Regions from separate parts of the Homo sapiens genome. Here region 2 is linked to region 1. A link means that fine-mapping ties the variant in region 1 to the expression of a gene that starts in the linked region. Tissue or cell type: thyroid. Region 1 holds a variant in brackets; the other region holds the start of a gene. All regions are shown on one strand. Distances are from middle to middle.

Evidence for each region. PIP is the estimated chance that this variant, and not a neighbour inherited with it, causes the effect.
Region 2: FAM201A starts here. The variant in region 1 is fine-mapped to the expression of FAM201A in thyroid (GTEx, PIP 0.90).

What each region holds. Positions count from the first base shown.
Region 1 is chr9:38,837,458-38,842,757 of GRCh38, reverse strand. No RefSeq gene overlaps it. Among named protein-coding and RNA genes, the nearest start is that of FAM240B, 120 kb to the right of the region's middle. The variant G/TG (reference allele first, on the strand shown) is at 2,077.
Region 2 is chr9:38,618,126-38,623,425 of GRCh38, reverse strand. It overlaps FAM201A (family with sequence similarity 201 member A), which reads right to left and starts at 2,338. Exons shown (of 2, transcript NR_027294.1): 1 at 2,061-2,338; 2 at 142-1,594. It overlaps ANKRD18A (ankyrin repeat domain 18A), which reads left to right and starts at 2,830. Exons shown (of 16, transcript NM_147195.4): 1 at 2,830-3,346. The coding sequence starts at 3,141. RefSeq lists enhancers at 1,203-1,412, 2,065-2,184.

The DNA of each region.
Region 1 (5,300 bases):
GTTACACTCCTTGTCCCTTTCTCTTTCATGGCCTTTGTCACTGTTCAACAGTCAGAGGACTGATGCTAGGTGGACCACCAATACAGCCTGTCCACCAAACCTCAGTGGTCCATCCAGATGAGCAGGGGCGAACTAGAACCCTTACCTGGGACTTAATCTTAGAATTACACAGAAAAGCCTTTTTTCTCTCATCAAAAAGCCTCAACACTTCAGCTGCTATGGCATCAGCCTTATGAAGAAGCTGACCTGGGAGAATAAAGCCAGCACAAGAGAGAATCATAAATGAAAGATAAGAGAGTCCCAACAGCACCCATGTTCCTAACTTCACACATTAAAGCCAGTTTCAAATGACCTAAGATCAATCCACTTTTTTTCTTAGTATTTGCTAATTGCAACCAAAGAATTCTGACTAAAATAGACATCGGAGGTGTTGTGTTATGTTTTCCCAGAGCTGCCACAACATATTATCATAAACTAGGTGGCATGTAAACAGAAATTTATTGGCTCACAATTCCAGAAGATCAAAGCCTGAAGTCAGGTGACAGCAGGGCCATGCTCCCCCTGAAGGCTCCAGCGGGGAATCCTTCCTGCGTCTTCCTGGCTTCAGGTGGTTGCCAGCAATTCTCGGCTCGCAGCTGCATCACTCCAATCTCTCCCTTCATCACTGCATGGCCTTCCACCCTCTCCGTGTCTCTCTGTCTTTCTGTGTCTCCAAATCTCCCTCTCCTTGTAAGGACACCAATCATTTCATTTGGGGCCCACCCTAATCCGATATGACTTCATCTTAACTTCATTACATCTACAAAGACCCTATTTCCAAATAAAGACACAATTCCAGGTTTTGTGTCTACTACATTTACAAGTGACGAACACTAAAATTTGATCTTGGCTGATTCAAGGTGTGACAGAGAACCTTGAATAGGCTCAAGGAGGCAAAACTACTTTGCTGCTTAGTGCACTGTGCATTAAGTTCTTCCCTTTTGTCTCTTGGGAGTCAATCCCCATGCATTCTGAAATGATTTAGGGGACCTTGCAGAAATCAGTGTAGTCAATTGTGTCAACTACTTCCTAAGAAATTCAGTAAGATGCAGTGGAAGCTCTAGAGAGAAGCCACAGGCTCAGCCAACCTGCCTAGACACAGAAATGGAACAGGTGAGCAAACATGCATGGGGAGTAGCATTTAGCCCATGTCCAAATAGCTAACACCATTTAAGGACAATCGTGCAGTGACCAGGAATGAGGACACTCAGGAAGCAGCAGAGTGGACTCCCTTGGGCAAAGGGCAAGGCAGCTGCTGCTGTCAAGGGGCAGAAAAATCCCAGGCCGATCCAGACTTAAGATGTGGTTTGTATACTCTCCTTGCTGTGGGAGATTGGATTATGGTCTATCAAAGATTCACTCTATTCTCTTTAACCTCCATGACAGAAGCATACTTCTCTCCCCATTGATGTTGGCCAATGAGCATTAACAGACTTCACCCAAGCAGGGGCTTGAAATGCTCATGAAATGCCTGTCCCTTGTGCTTCTGCCATTGCCCCAAGGAGAGCACATGCTAAGCAGCACGGCACGGGAACAGCTACATGAAGCTGACTTGAAACCCACCTGCAGCCTGGAGCCAAGCCCAGCCCTGACTTAATCAGCTTAACTCCAAGCAACCTGCTGATGTGCGAGCAAGAAATCAATGGTTGTTGCCATAAGCCATTGAGTTTGGGGGTGGTTTGTTATGCAGCATATTTGTGAGAATAGCTAACTAATAGAATAGCTAATAGAGCTCTGTTCCCGAGATAAAATGGATAGACAACTGATTAGAGCTTTAGAAATTGTATCGTTTTCCAATCCTGGCAAACAGGAATTCAAACCTTATTGTAATTATATTTGCTGAGCCAGAAACATTTCTCTGCCAAAAAAATAAGTTTAAAAATGAATATTCTTAGCGATCCCTGGCCCAAATAAAGCATGATACACATGCTGAGCTAAGTTGCATGTTCTTTATACATTGCTAAATAAGAATTTTCATTATCCTGTTTTTCCTCTACTGTTTCATTTCAGATGGTTGGGTAGCTAAATTTGATATGT[G/TG]GCAGGATCCCATGAAGCTATTCATCCAGAACTGACCCAGAAAACAAACCTTGGCCACAGTTCTGAGCTCAGAGTTAGACCCAAAGCTGCCTTGCTTTGACATTCATCCTTCCTCATCCTCAGCCTGCCTGTTCCCTGGAGGGTGCTCCTGCGTGCCCTCCTTACGTGGTGCTTGTGTGCCCACCTGCACCCCAGAAGGAGCTCCCAGCTGGCCTGTTCCAGCCCCATGTCACCTCCTACCAGCTTCTGCCCGGGGCAACCCAGAGAACCTCCTCTCAAGCTGGTGAGCTGCAACCACACCTCCAATGAGTCAGAGGCCCAGTCTTGGGGAGTGGGGCCCCTTTTCAAGTTTGTTTCTTCCTTGGGGACTCTCCCAGAGCCCAAATATTTTCTTCAGGTACCCCTTTATTGTTAACCCCATATAACATTTAATATTATTTATATTGATTTTCCTTTCCAAATTACTATGTGGTTTCTGTTTCCTCATTGGATGTTGATTGATTCAATTGCAGAAACTGATACAAGTTTTTCCTAAATAAACATTAATTTTATTAGTGACAGTTACTATTCTCTGGAAACCTAAATGACTTAGTTTTCTTTATTAAAATGTTTTGTTTAATAGCCTAAGCTAGGTAATTTCAAGCTTATTAATTTTCACTACATTTTATTTCAAATACACACTGGTGTATGCAATCTCTCCATCTCAGACTCTATTTAGCTCTCCCAAGCTCCACCGGCCTCACTGTCTCCCTCTGTTTCTAAAGTGGCTAACCCACAGCACAATGTACACAGAGTTTGCAAACACCCTAACCATACTGATCTGAGGAGTAAAAGAAAGGAACTAACAAAATTGTTTTGATTTCTATATTGTTGTTTAATTTCTATAACAACTCTACATAATAAAGTTATATTGTGAAAAAAGCTTCAGATTAATTTGCTCAGAATCATGTGATCATAAGCAAACCTCTATCCTTCAAAACATTTTTTCCACTGTCATGCAACTTTTTCATTAATATTATTTTTAATTGAAAAATCATCATTGTACACATGTATTGGGTACAAAGTGAAGTTCTGATATATGTACATGATGTGGAATGTTAAATCAAGTCAATTTACGTATTCATAATGTCACTTATTTTCTGTGGTGAGACATTTGAAGCTTACTCTTTGAGCATTTTGAAGTGTACTTTTAAAATGGTGGGATCATCATCTGGACTATACAAGAAATCTGTCAGTATGGTTATAGTTTCATAGAATTCCTTATATATGTGCACTAGGCAAAGAGATGGGAACAGAGTATTATTAAACTGGTGACTAGCACACAGTAGATTCACAATAAATACTTATTGAGTAAATAAAAAAAAACAGAAGAGTACAAAGTGAATCTTAGAAGTTACAAAAAAGGTGGCAAATTTGGTCTGGAATCCAAGCAGCAGAGGAACAGGTGGATAATACGCATTGTTAATTTCAGTATCTGAAACTCAATGAATAACGAAAGCAATAAAAACAAAAATGGCTGCCACTTATTGAGGATTTACATATGCCAGATCTCTGTCATATTATTTAACCTTCAATGAAAACTTATTGGAATATAGCCTGTCATTATTCCCAGCCTGCAGATGAGAAAATTGCGGGACATGACCTACCTGGAGACTCAGATTAAGTGGCAAAGTCATGACTGAATCAAAATTCAAACTTTTGGCCGGGTATGGTGGCTCATGCCTGTAATCCGAGCACTTTGGAAGGCCGAAGTGGGTGGATCACCTGAAGTCAGGAGTTCGAGACCATCCTGGCCAACATAGTGAAACCTCGTCTCCACTAAAAATACAAAATTAGCCAGGCGTGGTGGCACATGCCTGTTATCCCAGCTACTCGGGAGGCTGAGGCAGGAGAATTGCTTGAACCCAGGAGGTGGAGGTTGCAGTGAGCCAAGATCATGCTCCATCCAGCCTGGGCAACAAGAGCAAAACTCCATCAAAAAAAAAATAAATCCAAACTCTTAGCTACTGCCCTTATACTAATTGTCAAGAAAGAAGAAAACACAACCCAAATTCTTGAAAGGAACAGGGTGTGGGCAGCCAGGGAGTGCTCCCAGGTGTGTGGGCCCAGCGGCACCAGACTCTGCACACAAGAGTGCCTCCTTTCCACCCAGGCCTGGTTTCATGGAATGCCTGCTTCACCTGCCAGCATTTGCCTCAGACACATAAACTTCCCATGGAGTATATGAGTAAGCTCTGACAGCTCCATTGTTGGTGAGCTACTAGATAGCAGGAATTATAACCCAATTAAATTCAATACTCTATGGAAAAGGAAAAGGCAATGCAGTCCATCTTACTGATAGACAATTTTAGAATAGGTGTCTGTGATAGAACACACACATTATTTAATCCCCAAATAAGGGTAAAGTTTTAAAAGACAGTAAACCATAGCAGGCTCAGATATTATCTCTAAAGATTTTATTTGATATCCAGGATCCAAGAATGAAAAACATCCAACAATTATGAAACCAGCTTTTGCAATGGCTATCATCACCCAGGAAAAGGCATTGTTTAAAAATCCAAAGAAAATGGAGCAATGTTAAAACCAATCAAGCATTCAAGAACAGGTAAGGGATTAAATAAATAATGGTGAATCCATGTTATGAAATATTGGAGCTGTGCAAATGATATTTCAAGTAATCTTTATGACATGGGGAATATTTTCACTATATAATGTCATCTGAAAAAACATGCATAACGCCAATCTGTTTACACAATTTCATCTCAATTATTGAAAAGAACACATATCTATAAGAAAAAAAAAAAAGGAAGAGGCAGACTCCCGTGGAGGGCAGTTGTGCCAAGCAGAGGCATGGCCTGATGGGCTCATTGGCACCACAGACGTTGCTCTGTGGTGGGAAGAGGAGGCTGGGGGGCCAAATTCTAAGACGTGTGGCTCTCTGCATATATAGCTACGCGCGCACACACACACACACACACACACACACACACAAAGGATTTTCAACAGAGATGCAATCTACAAACTTCCTAGTGACAGGTATCATGTAGTGAGTAAACCCCCAAAAGAATCTTATGCCTATGAGGCAGAAAATTACAGATTTATCAAACTTTCCCAATTATCCATATCTGTCCCTGTCCCTTTCCTCCCCTTGGCAGAGGATGTCTCATGCTTGTCTTCTCAAAAAATGACAGTTTTGGAAAGGCCCAATGGCTTCATCCGTGAGT
Region 2 (5,300 bases), 220 kb after region 1:
CCCAGGAGGCGGAGCTTGCAGTGAGCCGAGACCCTGCCACTGCAGTCCGGCCTGGGCGAAAGAGCGAGACTCTGTCTCAAAAAAATAAATAAATAAACAAATAAATAAATAAAATAAAAAATACCCATCACCTCAATTTTATTTTTTGTGGTTAGATATTTGAAATTTACTTTTTGTTATTTAAATATACAGTACATTATTATTGACTATAGTCATCCTGCTGTGCAATAGATTTCAAAACGCATTTCTCCGGTTTAACTGAATCTTTGCATCTGTGAACAACTTCCCATTTTTCTCCCCAGCAACACAGCCTCTGGTAAGCATCATTATACTCTCTACTTTTATGAATTCAATTTTTAGACCTAAATTTAAATCCAAAAGCTGTAAAACTTCTGTAAAATAACAAAAGGGATATTTAGGTAACTTTGGGTTTGGCAATTACTTTGTAGATACAACAGTAAAGTACATAAAAGACAAATTTCTACCATGAAAGAAGATATTGGTATGAAGTCGTTACAATTAAAAACTTTTGCTCTGGGAAAGGAAATAAGAGAATGGAGAAACAAGCCACAGACGGAGAAAATATTTGCAAAACACCTGTCTGGCATCCAGACCATTAAAAACCACTTACAACTCAACAATAAGAAATCGAACAACCCAATTAGTAAATGGACGAAAGATCTAAAGAGGCTCCCATCAGAGATGGCATATAGAAGGGGAAAAGCTTATGAAAAGATGTTTGCCCTCCCAACGCTTTTCCCTCCCTGCGTCCCTCTCCCTCACACACCCTCCGCTGCAGCGGAGTGGGAGCGGGTCAGGGGCGCTAGGCGGTGACGGTGACGGTGACGTGCTGTCTCTCGGGCGAGGCGTGGGATTTAAGCGCATTATAAGCCGTGGGTCCCGGGGAATCCGAGAGGCTGAGCTTGGAGCCCAGACTGACCCGCCTCTCTCATGGTCCCGGCCCACTGCCCTGCAGAGCCCGCCTTACTCTTCCTCTCCACAGGTCTGCTGTGGCTCCACCAAGCCTGGTAGGCCCACAAGGAGCTGCATCCAGCAGGAGCCGCCGCCCGGGAACAAGCTACCCGCGGGCTCTGGGGACAACCGCCCGTCTGATGAGCTCGGCTGAGCGTGCACGCAATGTCGAAATCAAGGACGCCTGGATGCTTTTCATGGCAGAGTGACAAAAGTTTACCAACAAGAAGAGGAGCAGGGCTGCTGAAAGGTGCGGTGCCGCGGCGCCAGAATGCGGGATCCTGAGCCCTGCATGCGAGTCTTCGCGGGGCCGATCGCTGCGAGCCTCGCTTAGGTCCAGCCGCCTCCAGGGAGGGCAATATCCACGAGACGCGGGGAGTGAGGGCGGTGCTGGCCGCACCCCTGGTCCTGGGGCCGCGGGAGCCGTGCTAGCAGGCCGCCTTCCACTGCCGCCTGCGCCGGGTCGGGTTGCTGCAGCGGTGCCCGCTGCAGGAGCTCCGCGCCTGCTGCTTCTCCGACGTCAGGGCGCCGCCAGGATGACAGGTGCAGGAGGCTGCGGCTGTGGGCAGATGTGGTTTCCAGCCCCAGGTCCCGGCGGCCCCTGGCTTCCCAGCCCGCTGTCCTGTGGGCAAGAAGATGAAGAAAGTCACCCCATCAGCAGGTCAGCTGCCCCGCCTGGCAGCCCAGCCAGACAAGGCAACCGAAGTTCATCCTGTCTGAGTTGACTTTGTGCAGGCAGCGGGCCGGCGCCCAGGATGCTGGGGAGCCCTGCGCGCCGGAGGCCGACAAGCCGTGGGGCCCAGAGGCGCCACAGGGCGAGAAGGCACCCGCCTCCCAGCGCTTTCACCCCCCGGCCCGCCCGACCCGCTAGGTGTAGCAGTGGCTGCGGCCAAGCCAGGCATTCTGCCCGGCGGCGGCTGCACAGGGGCGAAAACTGAGAACCCCTGCTCAACCCCATCCGGAGTGACTGCCAAGTGCCCATGCCAGCGACCCCGATCCCCCTCCGGTGGAGGAATGGGCGGGAGGCACGGCCTGGGGGCCCTCAGGCTGGGCGCGCTGGCGATCCCGAGGCCGACCAGGCCATGCACCTCCAGCCCGCCTGGGCACCCAAGCTGCATCCGCCTTCTGTGTGCAGGCAGCAGCCTCCAGGCAACCCCCGAGCCCGCCAGCACTCCCCACATCTCAGAACCGGGGCCAGATGTCCCTGTGGCTGCGGCTGAGCTAGGTGGTCTGCCCTGCAGCGGGAACCGGCTCTCAGCCCCATTCCCCGTGGCTGCAGAGGGCCACTGGCTAGAGGTCCCGAGCTTCAGCAGACGAGGAGCCGAGCAGGGGCAGGGCCTGGCGGGCTCTCAGGCCAGGTGCACTCGCGATCCAGAGGCCGCCTAGGCCGTGCTCCACCACCTGGGCGCCCAAGCTGCAGGCGCCCTCTACCTGCTGGCGACAGCTGCCTGGCAACTCCCAAGATGGCTGGCGCTCCCAGCCTGGCAGAACCGGGGCTACATGTCGCCCTGGCTGCGGCCAAGCCAGGCGGTCTACCCGGCGGCGGCTGCACCGGGACAGGAACCGACCCCCCAGTCCCATCCCCGGTGGCTGCGGAGGGCCCCTGTCAGCGGCCCCGATCTCTCTTCGGAGGAGGAGCGGGTCGGGAGTCAGGGCCAGGCAGGCCCTCAGGCGGGAAGGGATGCACTCCTGGGATTCCGGGACGTCCCGCGGGAGCCCAGGAGAACCCGCAAGCCAGCGACGCGTGCGCCCGTGCTGCAGGTGCCCCCTGCCGGCCACGAGGGCTTGGGAGCGGCTTCCGGAGTCCCGGCTGGCGCTGAGTTGTAGGCGCGCGCCTAACTGGCATCGCGGGGACTCACTCGGTCTGAGAGTTCGGAGCGCTGAGGTTCAGGCGCGCGCCTAACGGCTTAGCTGGGCTCACTCGGTCTGAGAGGTCGGAGTCTGCGAGTGTCGCTGCTGAAGGCTGTGGTGGACCGGGCTGGATCGCGGATTCTGAGCTACATTGCGGGTTTGGGGGTGGATCTTGGATTTGGGGGTGGATCGCGGGTTGCGGGGGGGATCGCGGGTTGCGGGGGAGATCGCGGATTTGGGGCGGAGTGGGGGTGGAAAGGCCACGAGGAGCCGCCGCGGCTCAGGAGCGGGTGGTGGGCGTCTGAGAAGTCGCCACCATGAGGAAGCTCTTCAGCTTCGGGAGACGCCTGGGCCAGGCGCTCCTGAGCTCCATGGACCAAGAGTATGCGGGTCCGGGTTACGACATTCGGGACTGGGAACTGCGGAAGATCCACAGGGCTGCCATCAAGGGCGACGCCGCGGAGGTGGAGCGCTGCCTGACGCGCAGGTTCCGGGACTTGGACGCCCGCGACAGAAAAGACAGGTAGCTCGGGGACTCAGCCCGCGGTGGGAGGGGGCCGCAGGCCCGGCTTCCCTGCAGCCCGGCAGCCCCTGGGGCGGGGACCTTGGAGGGCGCCGGGCACCCTCGGAGCAGCGGAGCCAAATGGAGCCTCAGCTGCTTTCCGTCGCTGGCAATTCCCCGTCCGTCGCGCTTGGTGGAAAATTTGAGTGATTTAACTCACAAAGTTAGGCATATCCACGTTTAAAACATGGGGCCATATACATGATAGGGAGGTGCCTAATGAGAACTCATTCCCCTGTCAAAAATACCATGAGCCTTTTTCAGTAGGCGAAGAGTTCTCAGATAAAACCCTGTGTCGGTTTTACATCCGAATCCACCTAGGTAGACAGGTTCTTTACTGGAGCTTCTTAGAGGGACACTGGGAAGCGCGAGGTGGGTTCCTTGAATGGGAAGACTCAGTTTTCTCAAAATATGAACTGTTTCCATGTTTATCAGTTTTACATAAACTGAATGAAGATATCAAGGTTTTATCATTTTTGCATGACACTTGCTATCTATCTTACCATTGTGATGACATTTAAAAATGTTTATAATGGAGTGAAAAGACTTGCTCCTCTAGATATCAAAATGTGCTATTAATTCCCACAATTAATTATTTACTAACAGCTGAAAACACAGATAAATAAATGGAACAGAACAGGAAATCCAAAAACACTGAAATATATGTAAGATATATACATAGGGATGGATAATGGTAACGTTTCAGATGAGTAGGAAAAGATGAGTTATTAATAAAATGCCTGCTGTGTGAAGAAAACTAATGAAACTTTATGTCGCAAAAATGGGTTCCTGATGGAATTCAGACTGAAATTTTTACACATGCAAAATGAGAAAAAGTACCAGAAGAAAACGCAAAGACTTATTTATACAGGTACATTTTATGTTAACAAAGGCCTTCGTAAGAATGACCTCGCAAGCAGGCATTCTGAAAGTTGATTTAGCAAACTAAAAATTAAAATCCCCTGTGTATCAGAAAAAAATTAACAAAAGATAACACACTCGAAAAATATTTCCTATATATATTTTTACTAATATATAAAAATATATATTCAGATGAAAAGTGTATCTTCATCCTACAGGGAATTTATTCTTTATTATATATAATACATATTACTGATTATATGTATAAGAAATTGTATATATTACTAATATAATGTGTTATATATATATATCAGTTATATATATACAGATAAAAAGCACATCTTTATTTTACAGGGAATTCTTTCCAATCAAATCCACAAGAAAAGAACTCTAGAAGTGAGCAAAGCACTTTTTGCAGATTCACAAGTTACTTATGTACATAGGAAAAAATCCTTAGTGTTTCTCATAAGATAAGTTAAAAGAGGAGTGAGACTGTGTTCTATCCACAGTGTTTGTGAGAATGAAGAGCAGTGGCACTTACACTGCTGCTTGAAGTTTAAGTTGCTGATGACTTTTCAAGTGGATAATTTGGAGATAATTACCACATTTTAAAAATGTATATGCCCTTTACCCATCAATTCCATTGTATTAAAATACCTTCAGAAAATAGAGATACATGCACTTTTTTTCCCCAGCATTTATGTTAACAAGAACCCATAGAATGGTATGTGGCCATTGAAGGTGGCAATAGGTGGAGAAGTATGTTGATATGTGAAGATGCATTTTGTTACAGCCAGTGAGGAAAAACAAATCAGTTTGCTTGCACATACACACAAACATACTATGGTCTGGTGTTAGGCAATACTATGCACAAAATAGGATAAAATTTGTAACTTCTGAGCATTTGTATTTTAAAGTTTTTTGTTCCTTTTTCTTACCTTTGATTTCTGAAGTGAGCATTTATAAAATTTCTAGTAAAAATTTATTATTAATGGAATAAATTTTGGGAAGAGAAATATGACTCTTGAACAGATAAAAATAATTTCTCACTATT